Regions from separate parts of the Homo sapiens genome. Here all the other regions are linked to region 1. Evidence: fine-mapped expression QTL. A gene starts in region 1. Each other region holds a variant in brackets. All regions are shown on one strand. Distances are from middle to middle.

What was found.
Region 2: its variant is fine-mapped to the expression of ADD3 in stomach (GTEx, PIP above 0.99). The same link has a PIP of 0.9 or more in aorta, atrial appendage, left ventricle, sigmoid colon, subcutaneous fat and tibial nerve.
Region 3: its variant is fine-mapped to the expression of ADD3 in whole blood (TOPMed, PIP above 0.99).

The regions. Positions count from the first base shown.
Region 1 is chr10:110,006,607-110,009,366 of GRCh38, forward strand. It overlaps ADD3 (adducin 3), which reads left to right and starts at 1,378. Exons shown (of 15, transcript NM_016824.5): 1 at 1,378-1,693. It overlaps ADD3-AS1 (ADD3 antisense RNA 1), which reads right to left and starts at 1,775. Exons shown (of 5, transcript NR_038943.1): 1 at 1,575-1,775. RefSeq lists enhancers at 23-578, 579-1,132 and silencers at 961-1,390, 1,701-2,110.
Region 2 is chr10:110,106,050-110,108,809 of GRCh38, forward strand. All of the region lies in intron 2 of ADD3 (adducin 3), which reads left to right. Among named protein-coding and RNA genes, the nearest start is that of ADD3-AS1, 99 kb to the left of the region's middle. The variant A/G (reference allele first, on the strand shown) is at 1,269.
Region 3 is chr10:110,147,971-110,150,730 of GRCh38, forward strand. It overlaps LOC105378479 (a long non-coding RNA gene), which reads right to left. Exons shown (of 3, transcript NR_164121.1): 2 at 1,742-1,861; 3 at 1-216. Among named protein-coding and RNA genes, the nearest start is that of MXI1, 58 kb to the right of the region's middle. The variant T/C (reference allele first, on the strand shown) is at 1,544.

The DNA.
Region 1 (2,760 bases):
TAGACTAAAATTTCTACAGCCTTAGTCCAGTGGAGAGAGAAAACGATAAATGCATCACAGTTTGTGTCAAGACAAGATTCATTTTCCACACTTCATATGTGGGAAGAGGAAACTACATTTTAATTAGCACATTTTTAGGGAGGAGGGGGGGGATGAAGATGAGGCGGATGGCGTGAGGTATTTGAGGGGGACGAGTCTGCAGATGAGGAAAGGAAATGAAGTGGATTGTCGCCAGTGCCTTGGAAACGAAGGGGGATAAGGGTGGGGAACGAAGTTTGTTGTGTGTGTTAGGGTGGGGTTGGCCCAAGGGACCATGAATCATTAGAATGGCGCTCGGAGGGGTGTGCTTGCAAGTGTACTGGTGCAGGAGGGACGTGGAAGTCGTGGGTGGCAGAGAAAAGTGTGCACCGCTGGGAGGTCTATTTCAAGAATAGGTTGGGATGAGAAACATGTCTGGGCGAGGGGGGTGGGAGGCCCGGTGTCACCTGTGGATGGATCCACAGCCCTGCAATTGCGTGTTGCAAAGTTTGCCCGGCCCCGCATTCATTTTGAAGGTTCTTGGCGATGCCTCGACTTTTCGCCTCAAAGAAGTGAGCTCTCATAAGGTTCAGAGGCCGGGAGCCAAAGCGGGAGTGAAGACTCTCGAGGGGTCCAAATGAAGCAGAAGCGAGAGCCCCTGTCCTCCCCCTATGTGGAGGTGAAGCAGGGGTTGTGGGGACTAGGCGCCCGCGAAGGCAGCTGTGCTGAGAGCAAAGTCCAGGCCCCACGGGGGGCGTGCGGAGGTTGAACCTTTGCAGTGGCCTCCTACAGCCCCAGCAGCCAGCGTGGGCGGCCGAGGCTGACTCAAAGCGGCGGCTCAGCCTCGGGAGTAGGAGTAGGGGGCTCGCTCATTTAGGGCGGGAGACATTTCCGAGGCGCCCCTCCTCCCCTTCGCGGTCGGGTTTCTATCGGGGTCGTTTCCCCCTCTGGCCCTCCGGGGACGCCGCGGATTCGAGCTGCACAGTCAGAAGAGGACGTTGAAAAGGCGCCAGGCAGCCGCCCCGAACCAGGCCCTCCCGGCTGCCGGGCCTGCAGGCCCCCACCGCTGCGGCTTCACGGACTTAGAGCTTGAGGGCGCGGAGGGGGCTGCGGGGGCGGGACCAGGACTCCCGAGGGGCGCTCGGGGCGGGGCCAGAGAGAGCTCGGGGCTGCCAGAGGCGAGGTCTTGAGGAGGCGGGGCCGGGAGGCTTCGGAGCCCAAGAGGCGGGGCCAGAGGCGTAGGGGGCTGCGAGGGGCGGACCTTGGGGGCGTGACCGGGGGGGGCGCTTGGGGACCTAGGGGCGGGGCGTTAGGGGGCGGGACCAAGGGACGCTCGAGGGGCGCTCGGCTAGTCCCGCCAGAGCGCGAGCCGCCAGCCCGTAACGGTCGCCAGTGTGAGGGGCGGGAGGGAAAGAAGAGGGGTTTAAATTAGATTTTTTAAAACACAGAGCAAGCGCCAGAGGCGTCGGCATCCCAGGTGTCGCCGCTTCCTGCTGCACAGGGCTCGGCGTACAGGTCCCTCCCTCCTCAAGCCCCCTCCCCTTCTCCCGCCCTACCCTCTGGGGCTCTGCGGCGCTTAAGAGGCGGCCGCAGCGGCGGATCCGGCGGCTGCTGCAGCCCGGGCGGCTGCCGAGAAGGAGGGAGGGGAAACACAAAGCCGGCTACGCGCTGCGAGGTAATCTTGCGGGGAGAGGACGCGCCGTCGTCCCGCCTCTCTTCCGGGCCGGGACGCGGGCACCCGCGCGGGGGCTAGCACTGGGGACGCTACTGGGGGTCGCGCGGGGGTAGGGAGCGGCGGCTGGCGGGGCCAAGGGGACTTCTCATTGGCTGTCCCTGCGGCCTCAGGTGAACCCTTTTCCGGGGCGGGAGTGGGGACCACGGCCAGGCCAGAGGGGAGCGTACCTGCGGGGGAGGGTCCGGGGGTGGCGGTGCACGGCCTGCGGCGCCGCCGGGTGGGCCCGACGCTTCGCGCGTCTGCTGGTTTTCCCTAGGAAGGCGGGGAGTACCAAAATCAGTTACTGGCTGAAGCTTAGGTGACCCCGGGGACCTTAAGCCCTGAAGGTGCGCTCCAGGGGAGTGAGAGGTTCCTGCGCTTAGAAAAGGTGGAGGAAAGGGAGCGAATGTTGGTTTTAGTTGTTTTTCTCCTCATTTAAAAAAAATTTTTTTTGTTACAAGTTGAAAGTGTTCAGTCACCTTTCTCCTATAATCCGCTTCCCCACCCCCCAACACAGACACACACAAACACACCGCCCCTACAAACGTATACATGTTAGGTTGAGCTTCCTGCTAGGGGTGACAAGCGAAGTTGGCAGCAGGTCTGGTGTGCTGGTGTTTGGGGCACGTCCAGCCTCTTTGGAGGTAGGCTATTATAGCTTAGGCAAGACCACAGACAGGTAGCATAATCTGGGCCTCTTTTAAAATGGCAAGAACGGCTTCAGGTGAACTTTTTTGTTGCAGAGATTTAATTGCAAGTAGGTGCCGGTTGAAAATGGGAGCGCAAGGAAAACCACTAATTTCCTTGGCACATGTGCTGTTGCAATTAACCTGGTAGAGTGTTAAGGAATTTAACTTAGCCAAGAGGCTTTGAGGGAGGATTATATGCAAGTTTGGGGAAGGAATTGATAAGATTCTGGGGTATGGGACTAGCTACATACACGTGCGTGCAAGTTTACGTTAAATTATGTAGCATTTTAGATTTAGCAGTATTAAATGGTTGCTTTTCTTGGAATGGCTTCTGACTAC
Region 2 (2,760 bases), 99 kb after region 1:
CTAAGTAAGTTTGTTATGCTCCTAATCCTGCTTTAGGAGAGCTCTAATAACATAATTATAGGGTGCCTTGGGAGCAGCAAGTCTGTAATCTTTTTTTTTTTTTTAACTTTTTGCCCCAATTTTCCTCTCTAGTAATTTTGAGGTAAAACATCCAGATGTGGATATTTAAAATTCATCTCTGATGTCTCCTATATTTATCAGTGTTATTATCTGAGTGTAAGTTAGACATTACTGATAAATGAGCCAACATGGAGTTTTTTTTTTTTAAGCATTAATTGAAATAATTTTATCAGGTCAGGTTTTTTTAAAAAATCAAATTGGTTCTCTTTTCTGTGACTTAAGTATTTTATCTCCTGCCACTTTCTCCTGAAAGTTCTGACCTTGGATACAGAGTTTTAAAATGTGATGCCTCAAGTGAATTCTACTTTTGGTTTATAGTATTCCGGAATATGTGAGTACTTAAAGTATATTCTTAGCCTACATGAATCTCACATCTCTGAATATTTGACATTTTTAGAAGTCCATTTATGTCCATACTTTATGAATTCAAAGTTTATAGCCTCACTCCCTCGACATTGATAGATATATAAAATAAAAGGGTGTGAGATTCAGATAAGGCTTTTAAGGCACCCTGTCTCTAACTTAAACATTTTGCTTTTCACCTAGTGATTTTTTTACCATACTTTTTGGACCTATGTTTGAAGAGCTGTTCAAACTATAATGTTCTGGGGGCAAATTAAGTTTTCAAGTAGGATTTTGTTTGAGTTGAAGAATTAAATGGCTTTTTAAAAGTTTATAACATTCAATGAGGATGAATTTCTTATTTAAAGAAAATAAATCTTACCTAGTAGATTATGGGTAGGCCTAATTAGACAGCAGGGATTTCTCATTCAAGTAATAGACTGATAAGACTGTTTTCTAGCTAATAACCTATGAAATGGATATTTGCTACGTTAACTGGGTCAAGATTGAGATCAGATTCTTCACTTTCTTTATATCTAGGAAAATGAAAAGAAACTCTTAACTTAGTATTAATTGAGCACTGAACTACACACTCAGGGAGAATCTAGAAATGTGAAAGACACAGTTTCAGTCCTCAGATAATATGGTATAGTAGAGCAGGAAAATAGTTAAACAATCACAGTCATACACTAGGTACCCTAAGTATAGTATAGGGAAAGTTCACAGTGAAGTGTAGAAGAGAAGAAATACAGAGATCCCTCCTAACTTGGATGATTAGGTGACTTCAAGGAGAAGGTAGCATTTGT[A/G]ATGTGTTGAATAAAGGAAAGAATTCATTAGGAAGAAGAACAGTGGAAGTCAATACTTCCATTGGATGAAGTAGATCGAGCAGGGCTAGAGAAGTGCAAGTTGTGATCAGAGAATGCTGCAAGAACCTCATAGGCTAAAGCATGAGGTAGTAATGGCAGATAAAGCAAAAAAAATTACATAGCAGCAGACTATGGAAATTTTGCAGTACCAAGCCATTTTGACCTAAGTTAGGAGTCAGTACATTTTCTCATCATTGCCCATTTTGTTTACACAATTTTTTATAAAAGTGTTTGTTTTGGATCTGGGTTCACATTTTACTTTGCCTACCACTTACTAGCTATGTGACATTACGAAGCTCGTTTAACTTGAGCTTCAGTTTCCTTGTTGGTAAAATGGGGAAAATACCTCACACGGTTGTGACAATTAAATAAAATAACATAAGAGCATGCAGTACAGCACGCAGCACGTAGTCGGCAACTGTTTTTTGGAAATTATATATTTATTGCTAATTTGAAGTACATTATGCTTTTGTGGCAACACTTGAAGATTTTAATTCCTTAGACTGTATTTTGGTTTTTTAAGGTCTTGAATCTGTTACCCTGATGGCATTCTGGTTTATTCATCTTCACAAAATTTAACAACTACCACTACCTCCTCTTCTATGCTCTTCTGTATCTGAGAAAGAAGACATAGTTTATGCCATGGTTTTGTGTATATGTTGTTTGATCTTCTAACCAGTTCTTCTCTAGTGGAGACTCCAGGGAACTGTTGGCTAATCTGACTTAAGCCCAGTATGTGGCCACACCACCCTGATTAGAAATCAAGTTTCTCATTATGCTTTGATGAATTCTTAGCTACAAGAGGGCAAGTACTTAGCCTGGTATTCCAGGATCACCATAATCTGCCAGTATATATATATATATTTTTGCTTTATCTGCCATTGCAGTCTAATGCTCTAATCTAGCCTAAGAGGTTTACTCAACATTTCAGATCACAACATGCCTGCTAGCTTATTAGTTGTATTTGGTTTCAGAGATACAATCCAAGTCTGAATAAAATTAGGAAAAGAACTTGTGCTCAGTTGAGGGTTCCATATTTGAATCTTTATTCCATTTACTTATTAGCTTTATAACCTCGAGCAAGGCATTGCCTATCTCAGGACTTTGTGGTGAGACTCAAATATATCAACTATAAAGGATTATTAACATTGAACTTTAGTAAAAATATGATTAACTACCCATCTCAAAGATAAATAAAATTTTTATCTTAATATTTTAATGAAAGCTCAATAAATTTACTGATAAATTTAAAAAATCAGCTGAAATTAGTAATTAGTAATTTTTTATATTAGTCTTATATTAGTAATTTTTACACTTACTGTTTTATGACTTAGGTGATTATCTGAACAATATTTGAGAAACATTTGAAACATGTAAAAATGAGTAATAAATGTTCATGACAAAATATTAAACCTTTTTTGCACTGGAAGAA
Region 3 (2,760 bases), 140 kb after region 1:
GGGGTCAGAAATTCAGGAACATTCTGGCTTGGAGTCTTTCAAGAGGTTGCAGTTGAGACATCAGCCAGAGCCACAGCCATTTGCAAGCTTGACTGGGGCTGGAGGGTCTTCTTCCCGGATGGTTGGCAAGTTGGTGCCAGCTGTTGGCGGGACCTTAGATGCTCCCCGTATGGGCCTCTCTGCAGGCAGCTTGAGTGCCCTCGTGACAGGCAGCCCCTGCGGCAGACAATCCAAGGGAGAACAAAGCAGAAACCACAGTGACACACACTTGCACTTCAGCCACATTCTAATCATTAGAAGCGAGTCACTAAGTTCAGCCAAATCGAAGGGGAGGGACACTAGTTTCCACCTTTTGAAGAAAAGAGTGTCAAAAAATCGGTGAACATGTTTTAAAACCACCATGGGTTATAATAATCAATTATTCAATATCAGATTAGTCAAGTGGGAAAATGATGGAAAGGTGCTTTCAGAAGGAGGGAACAATGACTGAGTACCTTGTGTGTCCTAGGCTCTGTACTTCACATACATTATTGTGTTTAATTTTTTTTTTTTTTGACAGGGTCTCACTCTGTCCTCCAGGCTGGAGTGCAGCAGTGCAATCTCGACTCACTGCAACTTCTGCCTCCTGGGTTCAAGCAATTCTCATGTCTCAGCCTCCTGAGTAACTGGGACTACAGGCATGTGCCACCACTCCCGGCTGATTTTTGTATTTTTAGTAGAGTCAGGGTTTCACCATGTTGGCCAGGCTGGTCTCGAACTCCTGACCTCAAGTGATCTACCCACCTTGGCTTCCCACAGTGCTGGAATTAAACGGTGAGCCACCATGCCTGGCCTGGGTTTAATTTCATGAAAACTTTTTCTCAGTTTTACAGATGAGGAAAGTGAGACTAAGTGGAGATACGGCTTGTCCGAGGTCACATCACTAGTGTCAGAGTATGTCAGGTACATAGCCTGAAGCCACAGCTGTGCCATCACCTACCTCAGTGGAAAATGGAAAGCATTCCCAAGTATGTGCTACCTTGACTTATCTAAGCCATGTCCATTTTGCCACCAGGGAGAATTGTGATCAATACCCCCAGCTGAGTGAATTCTAAAAGAGCTGTTTAATTTGCCTCTAAATGCTCTGGATCTTAACTCCCCTTCAAAGCACCTCTCCTGCTTTCTGCCATTGCCAGTATTTGCCCAGCCCAGGCAGCGCCATGCCTGTCCTCACCCCTGACTTTGAGAGTCAGCCCACTCCTCTTCCCACTACAGCTGGCTGCGGTCTGGAGGCCAGTGGGGTCAATGAAGCAGGGTGGCACGGAGTGCAGGGGTGAGAGGGCAAAGCCCTCTGTCTAAAGGGGACTGAGCCAAGCCCAGCAGGGCGGAGATAGGATGGCCCATCTCTGCCAGTTCCATGCTGGACTGCAGAGGCCTGATAAGGCCAGGGAACCACCCACCCAACTATGTCTCCTCTTCCAAATAGAGGAGACTCCCCACACTGCTCTCCCCGCCATCGGTGGCTACATGGATGCTTTCCTCCAAGGGTGGCTGGCTGCCTTTC[T/C]CCACTGGGAGATGGAACGTGATCCGGGGCATGACCAGCTCTTTGGGGTGACAGGTCAAGTGGCTGAGGTCTGTGCTGGGAGTTCCCGCCTCTCCTACTCCCCTCCCTTCTCAGCATCGGCCAGTCCTGTCCTTCCAAAAAACAAACTTTCTGTTGGATTCTCTACTCAACACTGTCCCTTCTCCTGGGAGCTCATACCTGGAGAACTGCCGGAATTCTGCTCCACTGGTAGTCTCATCTCCTAAGGCACATTTTCTTGGCAGAAACCGTTCCTTGGGTTGGAAGTTTGAGGAGCCAGTGTTACTGTTGGAACCAGAGCTGGAGTAAGAAGCAGGTCAACAGCTGTTAGCCAGCGCTCCAGACTGTAAGGGACTTAAAATCCATTCTGATAAAGGTGGAAGGGATGAAAAACATCAGCTTCCTGGAATTCCTCGTAGGAACTCTACTGTCTGTGGTTGAAAGAATACTATAGCTGGGCGCAGTGGCTCATGCCTATTATTCCAGCACTTTGGAAGGCCAAAGGGGGTGGATCACTTGAGGCCAGGACTTCCACCAGCCTGCTCAACATAGCGAGACCTCGTCTCTATTAAAAAAATTTTTTTTTCTAAAAAAGAAGACTCTGATCAAACACTCTGAGGTGGAGGAAGGCATTGAGACCTCTAGCATCCATTGGTTGCCAAAGATGACAATCTGGTTAACAGCAGGGCCTTTCTCTCTGGGTGTGGTTGTGTGTTAGAAGCCCATTGCCACTCCCACCCCACCCTACTTGGCCCTCCACCCCTCTCTCTGTGCTCAACCCCTCTCTAGAAAAAGAAGTAAGAGATATTGAGAGGGTATCAGCAGGCCAGGACACCAAGTTGTTACCTCAAATAGAAGGACCAGGTCTCAGCCCACCCTGGCTGGAGCAGCGCACCTGTGGGGCAGGCCGCCCTCCGAGTAGGGGCTTTATGGGATGGATCAGAGCCACCACTGACTGGGATAAAGGGAGACTCTAGGGGGACCAAGCCTATAAACTAGCTGCCCTGCCAGCTGTCCGCCTTCCCCTCAGACCTGCATGCTGGCTTTAGAGCCAGTAATTCTACTGGAATTTTTCCTGTCCTCTTAGATGGGGTTTATCCCTCACTTGAAAGAACCCGGGACATTTGACATTGATGAACAAAGCAGGGGAGTCCACCTCCTGCCTGGAGGGCAGCTGGGAGTCAGAGCCAGTCCGTGTT